Linked DNA regions of Homo sapiens: region 1 is linked to region 2. A link means that fine-mapping ties the variant in region 2 to the expression of a gene that starts in the linked region. Tissue or cell type: monocytes. Region 2 holds a variant in brackets; the other region holds the start of a gene. All regions are shown on one strand. Distances are between the middles of the regions. Region 1 holds the start of SQOR (sulfide quinone oxidoreductase). Region 2 overlaps SQOR (sulfide quinone oxidoreductase).

What was found. PIP is the estimated chance that this variant, and not a neighbour inherited with it, causes the effect.
Region 1: it holds the start of SQOR, and the variant in region 2 is fine-mapped to the expression of SQOR in monocytes (Quach 2016, PIP 0.95). The same link has a PIP of 0.9 or more in monocytes after Pam3CSK4.

Annotation. Positions count from the first base shown.
Region 1 is chr15:45,633,975-45,636,719 of GRCh38, forward strand. SQOR (sulfide quinone oxidoreductase) reads left to right here and starts at 1,055. Exons shown (of 10, transcript NM_021199.4): 1 at 1,055-1,134. RefSeq lists enhancers at 199-1,194, 1,657-1,746, 1,777-1,826 and a silencer at 1,007-1,176.
Region 2 is chr15:45,654,670-45,657,693 of GRCh38, forward strand. The region is part of intron 1 of SQOR (sulfide quinone oxidoreductase); the gene reads left to right. Among named protein-coding and RNA genes, the nearest start is that of SQOR, 21 kb to the left of the region's middle. The variant TC/T (reference allele first, on the strand shown) is at 1,330.

The sequences.
Region 1 (2,745 bases), 21 kb before region 2:
GACCAGCTTGGCCAACATGGTGAAACCTCATCTCTACTGAAACATACAAAAATTAGCCGGGCATGGTGGCACACACCTGTAGTCCCAGCTACTCAGGAGGCTGAGACACCAGAATTGGTTGAACCCATGAGGCAGATGTTGCAGTGAGCCGAGATTGCTCTACTCACTGCGCTCCAGCCTGGGCAACACAGTGAGACTCTGTTTCAAAAAACAACAACAACAACTATATATATATATATATATATATATATTCAAAATTCATAAAACCAAATAAGTGTAAAAGAAACTCAAACTTTCAAGGGTTTATTTTTGTTTGTTTTTTTGAAAGCTTCTAGCACTTGCACTTCTCAGGTTATGAGACTTTTGGGACACCCTGTATTTATTGTAAAAAGGGTTACTGAATCTGATATGGTGGAGAACCACTCACTGAGACTTTACATCAACCTGGAAAGAGCCGCCAACTGAAAATGTCCAGTCATGAATATGGGATGGGACACTGTGGAGGCCAGTGGCTGGAAGCCAGCTTACCCCTGCCTGCGCGTTTTGAAGGAAGGGCTCCAGCGCACACCAAAGCTGAACCTCGGTCACCTTCTCTGTGAAATGAGCGCGGGAATACCTGTGTTTCTGGGCAGCTGTGTGAACCCGGTGAGAAGCCCAGGGCACATAGGAGGACCCAGTGGGAACAGCCAGAGCCTCTCTGCACAGCGCCCCGCCTCCGCTTTTGCCTGCCCTGATTACAAAACGCTGTTGGCACCCAGGGGCGGAAGCGTCAGGTGGCCTCGGTGTCCTCCGCCTGTGCGCCCCAGCCTGCGGGGCCGCCCTTCAGGGCGCGCAAGGGGCGAGTCTGTCCAGCCGGCAGCACCCCAGGCCGGATGGACGCTTGTTCCTGGTTCTGTGCCCCGTGAGCGCTCAACGCCCTGGTGTGTTCACTGACCATGGTGCCTGGGCTGCGGCGCCGGGCGGGGCACGGCGGGACTTTTCGGGACCTTTCCTGGGGGGAGCCTCGCTTTCCCCGCCTCCAGCCTCCGCCCGGATGGCAGGCGGGCGGGGCCCCAGTCCAGGCCTTGAGACCCAGAAGGGAGCGAAGGTTTTTGCTGCGCCAACGCAGTGACCGAAGGCTCCGCTCACGCCCGGGTAAGAGGCATCCGCGGCCGATCTTTGGCCCTGGGCCAGCGGAGGGAGACTGGGCGGGGACAGCGACCACCACTGAGGCTGTTTGTTAGCTTAACTCGGTTTCCGCAGCTGGGACTCCGCAGACCCGGTGCGCCGCGCCCCAAACTTTGCTTCCTCAACTCCGGACACCTGCAGCTCTTGCTGCCCTTGTCTGGAACCCGGGTCTTGGGACTCTTGCTTCCTTCTCAGAGTGTCAGAGCCTCAGGGCCGCGGAGAGGCCAACCCGCGAGGGGTGCTTAAAAACCGAAGTATCCGTGGTCTTGGTGTGTGGACGTTTCTGGCGCCTTCCACCTGTTGACTGTCACTCGGCACCGTCCTGGAGCGGGAGTGGGTGCTCGGCGTCCGGGGGCCAGGGATTGACACAGTCATCCACCGACACTGCGCGTGGGACAGAGGGGGCGCTCGAGGGGTCGGCTGCAGCTGAAACCTGAAGGGGAGAGGATTTAGGGCACCTGCTGAACAGGAATTGGTGGAAAGGGAGAAGGGGTCTTCTGGTGGAATCTGGGCTCATTTCCTTTCCTCTTCATCTGTCTCTTTTATTTATCAAAATTCCAACCTGGCTTTTTGCTCAAAGACGCTGAACAGAGCCCCTGGCTTTGCCTGCGCTGCCCATTGCTATAATGCAGGGCTCTGTTCCATTTTTGTGCTGTGCACCCCTTTGGCATTTCTGGGAAGGCTAAAGACTCTCAGAACAATACTTTTTTTTGAGACAGAGTCTTGCTCTGTCGCCCAAGCTGGAGTGCAGTGGCGCGATCTCGGCTCACTGCCACCTCCACCTCCCGGGTTCAAGCGATTCTCCTGCCTCAGCCTGCCGAGTAACTGGGATTACAGGCGCAGCACACCTGGCTAATTTTAGTATTTGTAGTAGAGGCGGGTTTCACCATGTTGCCCAGCTGGTCTCGAACTCCTGGCCTCAAATGATCCGCACACTTCGGCCTTCCAAAGTGCTGGGATTACACGAGTGAGCCACCGCGCTGGACCAGAACAATGCTTTTTTAAAGGTATAAAACAAAAGGAAGAGTATTATAAAGGAAACCAATTGCAAAACACATGTCAAAACATTAAAAGAATTTATGATATGGTAATATATATGTCTTTAAAAAACGAATGCGTTATTTAATAACAAGGTTATTAAATAACAAGATCTAGCAGTGGATTAAATAGTTACCATAATTTTGAAGTAGTAAAGAACATAAACAATTATTTCAAGATATAGGTAATACTTGTAATATAAGAAAATATCTGTAATTTCTTTCTTCTTTTTTTTTTTTTTTTGAGACGGAGTCTCACTCTGTCACCAGGCTGGAGTGCAGTGGCGCGATCTCGGTTCAATGCAACCTCCGCCTGCTGGGTTCAAGTGATTCTCCTGCCTCAGCCTCCCGAGTAGATGGGACTACAGGTGTGTGCCACCACACCCAGCTAATTTTTGTATTTTTAGTAGAGACAGGATTTCACCATATTGTCCAGGATGGTCTCGATCTCTTGACCTTGTGATACGCCCACCTTGGACTCCCAAAGTTCTGGGATTACAGGCATGAGCCACTGCGCACGGCCAATATCTGTGATTTCTAT
Region 2 (3,024 bases):
CATGGACACACACAAGGAGTTTCGGAGTGGAGGTTTAATAGACAGGAGAAAAGAGAAAGAAAAACAACTCTCTCTATTGAGAGAGAGGGGTCTTCTGAGTGGAAAGACGTGGCCGGTGGTGGATATGTCAGATTTTATAGTCAGGTTGGTGGAGGCGGTGTCTGATTTACATAGGGCTCACAGATTGGTTTGATCAGGTATGATGTTTACATAGTGCATCAGGAAGGCTGGCCTCCCCACCCTCATCTTATTATGCAAATGAACTTTCCCCTTAGTTGGGGCCATCTTGTCTGCTCCTTACTGTACACATGGCTGACAAAGCAAAGGGAAAATGGAGCCGCCATCTTGAACATGATTGCCAGCATCTATGTCTGCAGCTCGATTTTACAGGCTGCTTTTGTTAGACAGGAAAATGATTTGGGGCTGCTTTTCATTAAAAGGAAAACCTTACCGAGGACTTCCATACCCTCACTATCTGCCTAAGTAAATTTTTCTTAACTCTTGTATCACTTGGAGGCCAAATAACCTCAGACAGGGTGGCTGGAAACCAGAAACTTAGCCAGGCCTCCTCCTAGATTGCTCCTCCTGCCCCTGCCCCATGGGGCGCTTCCTATGGGGCTTTTCCCATGGAGATAGATATAGTGTCAGGACCATGAAAAACATGATTTTTCTTTTCTGGAAAGTGAGAAGTTTTGCTGTGATTCTATCATTCTGTGGACATTTAGAAAGAAAAGCAGGATGTGATGACTGGGTACACACCATAAAATATCTTCTTCCTTCCGTATGAAACATCAATATCTTACTTGGTGATTTCTTCTTCTCTTCAATCTAAAAAAAATCTATTTGAGTAATTTTTAAAATTTAAAATGTACAGTGTATTAAAGAAAATTTGTGAAAAGTACATACAAAGAAGAGGGAAAATAATTATAATCATTAAAACCATTGCTAATATTTAGGTATCAGTATCATGAAAAATGGTTTCCCTTTTCTGGGAAGTTGTAGAAAGTATATCTTTTTTTTTTTTTTCTTTTTGAGACAGAGTCTCACTCTGTTGCCCAGGCTGGAGTGCAGTGGCGCAATCTTGGCTTACTGCAACCTTCGCCTCACGGGTTCAAGTGATTCCCCTGCCTCAGCCTCCCCAGTAGCTGGGACTACAGGTGTACACCACCATGCCCAGCTAATTTTTTTTTGTATTTTAGTAGAGACGGGATTTCACCATGTTGGCCAGGATGGTCTCGATCTCCTGACCTTGTGATCCGCCCGCCTTGGCCTCCCAAAGTGCTAGGATTACAGGCGTGAGCCACCGTGCCTGGCCTATTTTTTTTTTTT[TC/T]CCCGTTTAACATTATCACACAAGCATTGTTTTGTTGCTGTTGAGACATATTGTTCTAAAGATCATAGAGATAGTATGGTGTAGTGGTTTAAAGTAGAGGCTCTCACACCAAAATACCTGGGTACAAATCACAGTCCACCCATGGGCTATATAACTTTGAGAGTCACTTAACTGCTATCTGCCTTAGTTTTACCATCTGTTAAATGGGAATGATGGTGGTAGCCAACTCACAAGTTAAATGCTTATGTAAAGGACTTTGTAAATGTTAATTATCATCTAAAGGAAGATTTTATTAATATTAATTTTATTTATTTATTTTGAGACAGGGTCTCCCTCTCTTCCCAGGCTGGAGTACAGTGGTGAAATCACAGATCACTGTGGCCTTCACCTCCCGGGCTTGAGTGATCCTTCCACTTCAGCCTTGGTAGTAGCTGGGTGCACCACCATGCCTGGCTAATTTTTTTTTTTTTTAAATAGAGTTGGGGTTTCCCCATGTTTTCCATGCTAGTCTCAAACTCCTGGGCTCAGGTGATCCCTCTCTCTCAGCCTCCTAAAGTGCTGGGATTACAGGTGTGAGCCACCATGCCCAGCCAATATTAATGTATGTGTATAGTAGAGACTTTTATAAAATACATAAAAGCAGAAGAAATCAAAATCACTCATTATTCTAAAACCCAGAGAAAACCACTTGCCAGTGTTAAAATTTTGGCTTTGTTTTTTCTAATATATTTCCTCTTACATAGTTGAGAGAATATTGCATTTCTAATTTGTATCCTGATCATGATGTAAACATTTTTTATTTATTTTATTTTATTGTTTTTTTCAGACAGAGTCTCACTCTGTCACCCAGGTTGGAGTGCAGTGGCATGATCTCAGCTTACTGCAACCTCTGCCTCCTGGGTTCAAGCAATTCTCATGGCTCAGCCTCCCTAGTAGCTGGGATTACAGGCACACACCACCACGCCTGGCTAAAAATTTTTGTATTTTTAGTAGAGACAGGGTTTCACCATGTTGGCCAGGGTGGTCTTGAACTGCTGACCTCAGGTGATCCACCTGTCTTGGCCTCCCAAAGTGCTGGGATTACCGGTGTGAACCACCACGCCTGGTCTATATATTGTTTATGAACATAATTTTAAAAGACTTCAGAAATCATCTTGTGTTCCATATTTTAGTTAACCTTTCCCCAGTGTTTTGATATTTGCATTGCTCTCTGCCCCCATATTAAAGTGGTGACCTGAGCCTTCCCTGGCCCGTGTGGAGCCTGCATTTTTTTTTTTCTGTCCCCAGGACATAATTAGCCCTAATCCACAAACCAATTAGTAGAGGGGTGACCAGATTATGAATACATTTGTGAAAAACATCTTTGTAGTGGTTTTTCTTCTTCAGTATTAGAGGTTATTTCCTTAGATTAGATTCCTAGAAATGGAAATGCAGGGTCAAAGGGTAAGTTTCCAGAAGGGTTTTATTGACTCTAGACTCCTGGAAACACTGTATGAGCCTGTCCTACTTACCGTGGGCCTCCAAATCCCCTTCCTACAGCTCTAGGTTGCTTCTCAGATCTGAAATATTGAAGAAGTTGTCGGGGCACCAAAACTCTGGAATTAAGTTAATCTTAACAGCCCCTCAGCTCCTCTTTCCCATTCCCTATTATTTTTCCCCCTCTCCAAGGCCTTTCTTTCTTTTTGTAGCTCCTC